2 separate regions of the Homo sapiens genome follow, and region 1 is linked to region 2. A link means that fine-mapping ties the variant in region 2 to the expression of a gene that starts in the linked region. Tissue or cell type: liver. Region 2 holds a variant in brackets; the other region holds the start of a gene. All regions are shown on one strand. Distances are from middle to middle.

Region 1 (4,238 bases), 32 kb after region 2:
GACATTTGTTCTGCAACCTTCTCCCTTTCCTTGTCACAGTCATCTATTAGTTTCAGGCTCACTACCCACCCCGCAACCCCAATTCTCTAAAGTTCCTTGACCTCGATTGACTCCTCCACCTCCTGCCATCCTTTTGGGACCCTCGATGTCCAACATACCAGCCTTGTGGGCACTAAACCCAAGGCCAGTGATGCCCATCTCACTTTTCTATTCCATTGTAGCTGCCACACCCCAAACTGTCTCATTTCCTGGAATATCCATTTGAAGGCCTGAACTCCAGCACCACACTCTCTGCTGCCAGTTTGCCAGTCCTCTCCTCAGAGGCCCTGGCCTTGGAGCCCTTCTCTCATCTGTCTCCCAGTCCATCAGCTCCCCGCTGGTTTTATTAACAGTTCCTGTCCTCTAGGACTAGAGCTCTGGCCCATCACTGCAATCGCAGTCTTTCTGTGCCCTCCACCTCCTCACCCTCTTGTCCTTCTATTCTATGCAAGCAGGAAACTTGGGTTTCATAACTAAGAGCTATATTTCTGTAGATACCTTGCCAGATTATAGCAGATTATAGCTGGACACCACTACACGATGATGGTTTCTAAACTCCACTAGGTCTTCAGTGACTCTTGTCTAACTTGTCGCTCTAGCATCTCACACTGGTTATGCGAAATTTCCACCACTTTCCTAAAACCTTCCATCTCACTTCAGACCCTTCTGTTGTCCATGTTAGCTTCCTTCAGTGGTTGGCTTCTTGCCTTCACCCGAAAAACCTCCTGTATCCGTTCCCAGCACCAATCATCCTCCAATACTCTTTTTTTTTTTTTTTTTTGAGACAAAGTCTCCTCTGTCACCCAGGCTGGAGTGCAGTGGCCTGATCTCGGCTCACTGCAACCTCTGCCTCCCAGGTTCAAGCGATTCTCTCTGCCTCAGCCTTCGGAGTAGGTGGGATTACAGGCAGGTGCCACCACACCTGGCTAATTTTGCATTTTTAGTAGAGACAGGGTTACACCACGTTGGCCAGGCTGGTCTCGAACTCCCGACCTCAGGTGATCCGCCTGCCTTGGCCTCCCAAAGTGCTGGGATTACAGGCGTGAGTCACCCGAAGAGTGACTTTTTAGAGTATTTGGGCGGGGTGCAGTGGCTCAAGCCTGTAATCCCAGCATTTTGGGAGGCAAGGCAGGAGGATCAGCTGAGGTCGGGAGTTCGAGACCAGCCTGGCCAACGTGATGTAACCCCGTTTCTGTTAAAAATGCAAAATTAGCCGAGCTTTTTGGCATCCGCCTGTAATCCCAGCTACTCCGGGGGCTGAGGCAGGGACAATCGCTTGAACCCGGGAGGCGGAGGTTGCAGTGAGCCCAGATCGCGCCATTGCACTCCAGCCTGGGCAAAAAGGGCGAACGAAACTCCGTCTCAAAAAAAAAAAAAAAAAAAAAGTCACTCTTGGAAGCCTTAATTGCCTTCCTCCCCTCACTGCACCCCCGCAACTCTTTGCTGCAGAAGTATTGTTCTAGGGAACCTTACTGGTTCCAACAGACGGGTGGACCTCCCACCAGACTGTGAGCTAGCTCCTCAAAGGCAGGCATTCTCTTTCCTTTTCCTTCTCTCCTGAGCGCTCCTGCAGTTCCTGGGGCGTAGTAGGGGATCCACAAGCGTTTGTGACCAGTGAAGTTCTTTACAAGGGTGAGATCTGCACGGGAGGACCCGAGCGAGGGTCTCGGCTTGCCAGGAAGCCGGGGTTCCCCGGGAAGCGTGGAGTTCACCCGCGCACTCGAAGTGCCTTTGCAAAGTGAGCCACGGGAGGGAGGAGCGGTCCCCGGGCTGGGCGAGGCCTGGGGCCCAGTGCGTCCAGAGCGGAGGGTGACGGGAGCTGCCTGTGCTGGAGGAATCACTTTTTAGGCGCTTGTTTTGGACCATTGCACAAACCCGGGTGCAAACCCCAAGCTCACCAGCGTGAGTGAGCTGGGCCAGCAGCAGGGAGGAGAGGGGAAGGTGGGCGAGGAGGGCGCCGCGCACCCCGAGGCCCGTGTGGGCGGTGGGAAGATCCCGGGGGCGGCTTTGGACAGCCCCGGCAGCGACCCCTTCCCCAGCCCGACAGGTGAGCGCCAGGCCAGCCGCGGGGTGGAGCCCGCCGTGCCCACCGGCCACCCTCCCCGGTGCTACCACCACCGCGCAGGTAACTTCCCTTCTGGGCCTGTCCCAGACCCCCAGGGCCTCGGCGCCCGGGCCATCCCTCGTCCCCAGGGCCTCTCCGCCCTGCACCCCCAGCCCCGGTGCACTTGTGGGGCCGGGCTCCTTTGTCCGCTCTCTGATGGCGCCGGCTCCCTGCCCAGCGCTGAGTCGGGTCCGGCCGCCAGCCCCGCGCTCGCAGACCTCGGCTGCCGGGTGTGGCGCGGGGACTGGGGAACGCTGGCCCGTGCCCAGTGCGGTTGGAGCCTGTCCCGCGCGTCCCCGGGACGCGCTTCTTCCCGCCTCCGCCCGCGCCAGCGCCCGCACCCGGATCCCCACTTCTCCCGGCCCTCGGGAGCCAGGAGAGCCCTGAGATGGCGTTGGCGGAAGTGAAGCCCCGAGCGGGGGTCTGCGAGGCTGGTGATCAGCGCCGGTAACATGGCCTTTCTGTCCTCTCCCCGGTCCCAGTGCACCCCTTAAACAACGACCCCCGCGTTTTCCCCGTACTAGATGGTTAGGGCGCATAGTGCCGAACTACGCTGCTGCTACAGAATAGCTTTTTTGGGGGCAACATAAAAAAGAATTGTATGTATGGTTTATATACAACAAAATGTCCCATTTTCAGTGTGCAAATCGACGGGATTTGACAAATTATACACTCCTGTAACCATTATCCCAAAGTGAACATTGACCATTTCCTTCACCCTGCAAAGTTCCCTGGTACCTCCTTTCTGTCAATCCACCCCAGGCCCCGCACTCAACCCCGGTTCTGATTGTTATCATAGCTTAGCTTTGACTGTTCTAGAACTTCATAGAACAAGATCATCAGGTAAGTACTCTTTTGTGTCTAACATTACTTTTTAAATGGCCATCACTGAGAAGGTGTCTCTGGGTGCTTCCGGTGCTTTTATTTGCTCTAGGCCTGCCTGGTCTAATGTGGGAGCCACTGGTCACATGTGGTTATTGAATACTGGAAATGTGGCAAAATCCGTACTGAGATGTGCTCTGAGTACAGGCACCTGATTTCTGAAAGCTTAGTACACAAAAAAGATGTCAAATATCTCACTAATACATTCTTACATTGTGCGTTAAAAGTGATAACATTTTTGGCTACATTGGGTTAAATAACATATATTAACATGAACTTCATTTGATTCTTTTTACTTTTTTAATATGGCTACTAGAAACTTAAAATTACGTACCTGGCTGTGTAATATTTTTTATTAGGTAGTGGAGACAGCACAGCTCTACACTGTGCTATCCTATAAACACTTGGTTCTGCTCACTGCATGTAAGAGTAAATGAAAAACTTGTCTTGACACCAGAAACAATCCTCAATGGAGGAAGTGATCTAAAACAGGGCCAGCCTTTCCCTGAACCTTTGAAACTTTGTTAAACTTACTTGTGTGCTTAAAAGAAGTAGAGGGCCGGGCATGGTGGCTCATGCCTGTAATCCCAGCACTTTGGGAGGCCGAGGTGGGCGGATCACGAGGTCAAGAGATCAAGACCATCCTGGACAACATGGTGAAACCCTGTCTCTACTAAAGATACAAAAATTAGCTGGGAATGGTGGCATGCACCTGTAGTCCCAGCTACTTGGGAGGCTGAGGCAGGAGAATTGCTTGAACCCGGGAGGCGGAGGTTGCAGTGAGCCCAGATCGTGTCATTGCACTCCAGCCTGGTGACAGAGCGCGACTCCAACTCAAAACAACAACAACAACAACAAAGTAGGAAGAATTAGGTGTCCCCTTGGTATTAAGTTGCATTTTTACAAAAGGTCTCTAAAATATCCAAGGTGCTTTAAAAAGGTATCTTGTGTTTTTGAAAAAACAGAAAATGAGCAATTGCTTATGTAGGGGAGGAAAGAGCTGATATCATAAGGGTCACGGCTGACAGCCTTAAACAAGAGACAGATTAACAAGAGAGAAGCATAATAATTTATTGAATCATAGGTTTATGTGACATGGGAGCCTTCAGAAATGAAAACCCCTTAAAGATGCAAGGGAAATGATCTGATTTTATGCTTGGAGTCCATGAAGCAGGGACAGATGAGCTAATGGAAATAGACTGAGTGGGGAAAC
Region 2 (4,238 bases):
CGAGATCACGCCATTGCACTCCAGCCTGGGCGACAGAGTGAGATTCCATCTCAAAAAAAAAAAAAGAAAGAAAAAAGACAAAGTCTAAAGATGAAATTTCTAATGAGATTTTTTTTTTTTTTTTTTTTTGCCATAAAACATACTTTTCTTATGGGAGGGTTGGGGAGGGCTCTAGAAATTTACCACTAATATGTTAATAATTATGGAGGGAAGAGTTTCACTACAAAGAAAAAAAGATTCCATATAACTGTTATTCTGAGTCTGGAAGAACACTTCCAGAGTGGTGTTTTCACAGACAGAAAACCTGTGCTGCTGTGTGAACCAAAAGGCTAGCAAATATTTGTTAAAACCGCTATGTGGCTGGGTAAGCATAGCAAAACAAACATGTGTTCATCTGTGCTCCCTCTGAAGATGCCAGGAAAGTAACAGAAAAGGAATTACATACATAAAAACACAAGGACAAAGAGAATGAGAGAGGAGAGGACAGTGGACGCTGTCAAGGGCAGTCAAGTGGAAAGCTGTCAAGTGGAAATGTCAAGGGCAGACAGTAATCTTTTTTTTTTTTTTTTGGAGACAGAGTCTCACTCTGTCGCCCAGGTTGGAGTGCAAATGGTACGATCTTGGTGCACTGCAACCTCTGTCTGCCGGGTTCAAGCAATTCTCCTGCCTCAGCCTCCCGAGTAGCTGAGATTACAGGCATGTGCCACCACACCAGGCTCTAATTTTTTGTATTTTTTTTTTTTAAGTAGAAACAGGGTTTCACTATTTGCCCAGGCTGGTCTCAGACAATCTGCCTGCCTTGGCCTCCCAAAGTCCTGGAATTACAGGCATGAGCAACTGCACCCGGCCTAGGCAAACAGTAGTCTACTTCGTTGACCAGAGAAAACTGTACTGAGTTGTCTGCAGCAAGGGTGGAAGCCCAGAGAGCCCCTGGGCCTCCCATCTTGCCCTGCCCTGCTCTGCCCATGTGGGGAGGGGAGCCAAGCTGCTCTACACTCAGGGACCGGTGGCACAGTTGAGACTGGGGGTGTGACATCAAGGTCAAGCCACAGGGGTCAAGGGATAGTCTGCCTATCAACTGGCTCTTCCCATTGTCCTGCCTGCAGCCAGGCAGGAGGCCGAGGAGTCCTCTGGGGATAAGCTACCTTCCCACAGCTACTGAGCCTCTCCAGGCCAAAAGGCTTGTCCCCACATTCAGCGGCCATGTACCCTTTCAGTATGGCACTGCTAATGCGAAGGGACAGGTAAGGAGAGTCTGCCACATAAACGACAGATCCCCAAACAAACAAAAGAGTCCCGAGGGAGGAAACAGCATAGAAAAAGGAGTCTGTCTTTTATTTGAGACAGGGTCTCACTCTGTTGCCCAGGCTGGAATGCCAGTGGCGTGATCATGGCTCACTGCAGCGTCGACCTCCCAGGCTCAGGTGTTCCTCCCGCCTCAGCTTCCTGAGTAGCTAGGACTAAAGGTGCGCACCACTACGCCCGGCTAATTCTTGATTTCTTTGTAAAGATGGTGGTCTTGCTATGTTGCCCAGGCTGGTCTCGAACTCGGCCTCACATGATCCTCCCGCCTCAGCTTCCTGAGTAGCTGGGACTAAAGGTGCACACCACCACGCCCGGCTAATTCTTGGTTTCTTTGTAAAGATGGTGGTCTTGCTATGTTGCCCAGGCTGGTCTCGAACTCAACCTCACGTGATCCTCCCACCTCAGCCTCCCAAAGTGTTGAGATTACAGGCATTGGCCACCGCACCCAGCTGAAAAAGGAGTCTTTTGAGAGAACTGTAACTAACGTACTCAGGGAACAGTAAGATACTGCACCCATATGACAAGGTTAAGAGAAAGGGAACAATGACAGAATAAGAAGGAACGCTGACTCCAAACATGCGACAGCTTCAATACAAGGGACTGGACTGGAGAAGGCACGGAAGAGCTTGAGACAGAACACCCAAGGGAAGCAGCAGCGGGGAAGGTGGCCCCTGTTGGCCGCACCACCAAGGCAGGCTTCCAGAATGCATCATGCATGCACTGGAGCCTACAGGACAAGCTGGGATTTGTGGAGCCCAGAAGAGCTGTTGGAGGAAAAGCCTTAGCAAAGAGAGCAGGAACACTGCCACTGGAGGGCAGAGCCTGAATGGAAAATGCAGTCAGCTTGGAAAAAAGATCCCGATGAGCCTCAGAGACCAGAATGTGATTCAGGGTGATGCAGCATGTTTGTGGTTTCTGTAGGGAAATGTGTTCTACCTTGTAACTGGGATAGAAAAGCACATTTCA[C/T]CTCTACCCTGTATTTCCTGCCAAGTCAGACCTTGGTTTTGATTCCAGAGTGCCCTGACCAGGGGAGCTGCCAAAGGGCTGCGGGGCCTGCTTTTATGAACAGATAGAGACCCTTTTGGCCCCTTCCATCATTATGTGCTGATACTGAGCACATAATGGAGGCCATGAGGAAACGCTGGAGAACACTCTGCTTACAGTTTAGGAACGAGGGCAAATCTCATCTTGCTTAGCAGCTCATCCTCCTGGAGCATGACCAGGGCCACGGGGTACATCTGATCAAAGTCGAAATTAAATTGCACGCCAGCCGGAGGGTCACGAAGGAAATTCCTCTTGTCCTTTGATAAAAAAAGAAAAAAACACAGGGTATTCCACAAAATGCGATTAATAGATAACAATTTTTTTTTTTTTTTGAGACGGGTTGTCACCCAGGCTAGAGTGCAGTGGTGCAATCTCGGCTCACTGCAACCTCCACCTCCTGGATTCAAGCAATTCTCCTGCCTCAGTCTCCCGAGTAGCTGGGATTATAGGCACCCGCCACTGCGCCTGGCTAATTTTTGTATTTTTAGTAGAGATGGGGTTTCACTATCTTGGCCAGGCTGGTCTCAAACTCCTGACCTCGTGATCCACCTGCCTCGGCTTCCCAAAGTGCTGGGATTACAGGGGTGAGCCAATGCGCCCACTCTTTTTTTTTAATTTTATTTTTGTTTTGAGATGGAGTCTTGCTCTGTCGCCCAGGCTATAATGCAGTGGTGCAATCTCAGCTCACTGCAACCTCTGCCCCCTGGGTTCAAGCAATTCTCCTGCCTCAGCCTCCCGAGTAGCTGGGATTACAGGTGTGTGCTAGCACGCCTGGCTAATTTTTGTATTTTTACTAGAGATGGGGTTTCGCCATGTTGGCCAGGCTGGTCTCGAACTCCTGACCTCAAGTGATCCACCCACCTTGGCCTCCCAAAGTGCTGGGATTACAGGTGTGAGCCACTGCACCTGGCCTACTACATAACAATTTATCATAGACTGGGGAAATATTATATTCTTTCTTTATTTTGAGACAGTCTTGCTATGTTGACCAGCAGGAGTGCAGTGAGACTCTCAAAAAAAAAAAAAAAAAAAAAAAATAGAAGCGGACAGGGTGTAGTCGCTCATGGCTATAATCCAGCACTTTGGGAAGTTGGGCAAGAGGATCGCTTGAGGCCAGGAGTTCGAGACCAGCCTGGGAAACATAGTGAGAACCCATCTCTAAAAACAATTTTAAAAATTAGCTGGGCATGGTGGCTTACGCCTATCGTCCCAGATACTTGGAAGGCTAAGGCCGGAGGATCACTTGAGCCCAGTTCAAGGCTGCAGTGAGCCATAATTATGCCACTGTACTCTATCCTGGATGACCAATTGAGACTGTGTCTCTTAAAACAAAAACAAAACAAAACAAAACAAATTAAATTAAAAATTTTGGCAGCGCATGGTGGCTCACACCTGTAATCCCAGCACTTTGGGAGGCCAAGGCAGATGGACTGCTTGAGGTCAGGAGCTCGAGACCAGCCTGGCCAACATGGTGAAACCCTGTCTCTACTGAAAACACAAAAATTAGGCTGAGTGTGGTAGCTCACGCCTATAATCCCAGCACTTTGGGAGGCTGAGGTGAGGGTGGATCACGAGATCAGGAGTTCGAGACCAGTCTGGCCAACATGGTGAAACCCCGTCTCTACTCAAAATACAAAAATTAGCAGGGCGTGGTGGCGGGCACCTGTAATACCAGCTACTTGGGAGGCTGAGGCAAGAGAATCGCTTGAACCTGGGAGGAGAAGGTTGCAGTGAGCCGAGATCGTGCCACTGCGCTCCAGGCTGGGTGACAGAGCGAGACTTTGTCTCAAAAAAAAAAAAAAAAAAAAAAAAAACCACACAAAAATTAGCTGGGCATGGTGGCGCATGCCTGTAGTCCCAGCTATTCAGGAGGCTGAGGCAGGAGAATC

Which allele goes with the higher level. Positions count from the first base shown, and alleles are read on the strand shown. Sizes are in standard deviations (SD) of each study's normalised expression.
In carriers of allele T in region 2, the expression in liver of the gene that starts at base 1,830 in region 1 tends to be lower than with C alone (small effect, 0.35 SD a copy in GTEx).

What was found. PIP is the estimated chance that this variant, and not a neighbour inherited with it, causes the effect.
Region 1: it holds the start of CTPS2, and the variant in region 2 is the best candidate, but not a certain one, in a credible set for the expression of CTPS2 in liver (GTEx, PIP 0.52).

The regions. Positions count from the first base shown.
Region 1 is chrX:16,710,261-16,714,498 of GRCh38, reverse strand. CTPS2 (CTP synthase 2) reads left to right here and starts at 1,830. Exons shown (of 19, transcript NM_175859.3): 1 at 1,830-2,164. RefSeq lists silencers at 1,958-2,047, 2,108-2,377.
Region 2 is chrX:16,742,069-16,746,306 of GRCh38, reverse strand. It overlaps SYAP1 (synapse associated protein 1), which reads right to left. Exons shown (of 9, transcript NM_032796.4): 5 at 2,467-2,606. Among named protein-coding and RNA genes, the nearest start is that of SYAP1, 25 kb to the right of the region's middle. The variant C/T (reference allele first, on the strand shown) is at 2,272.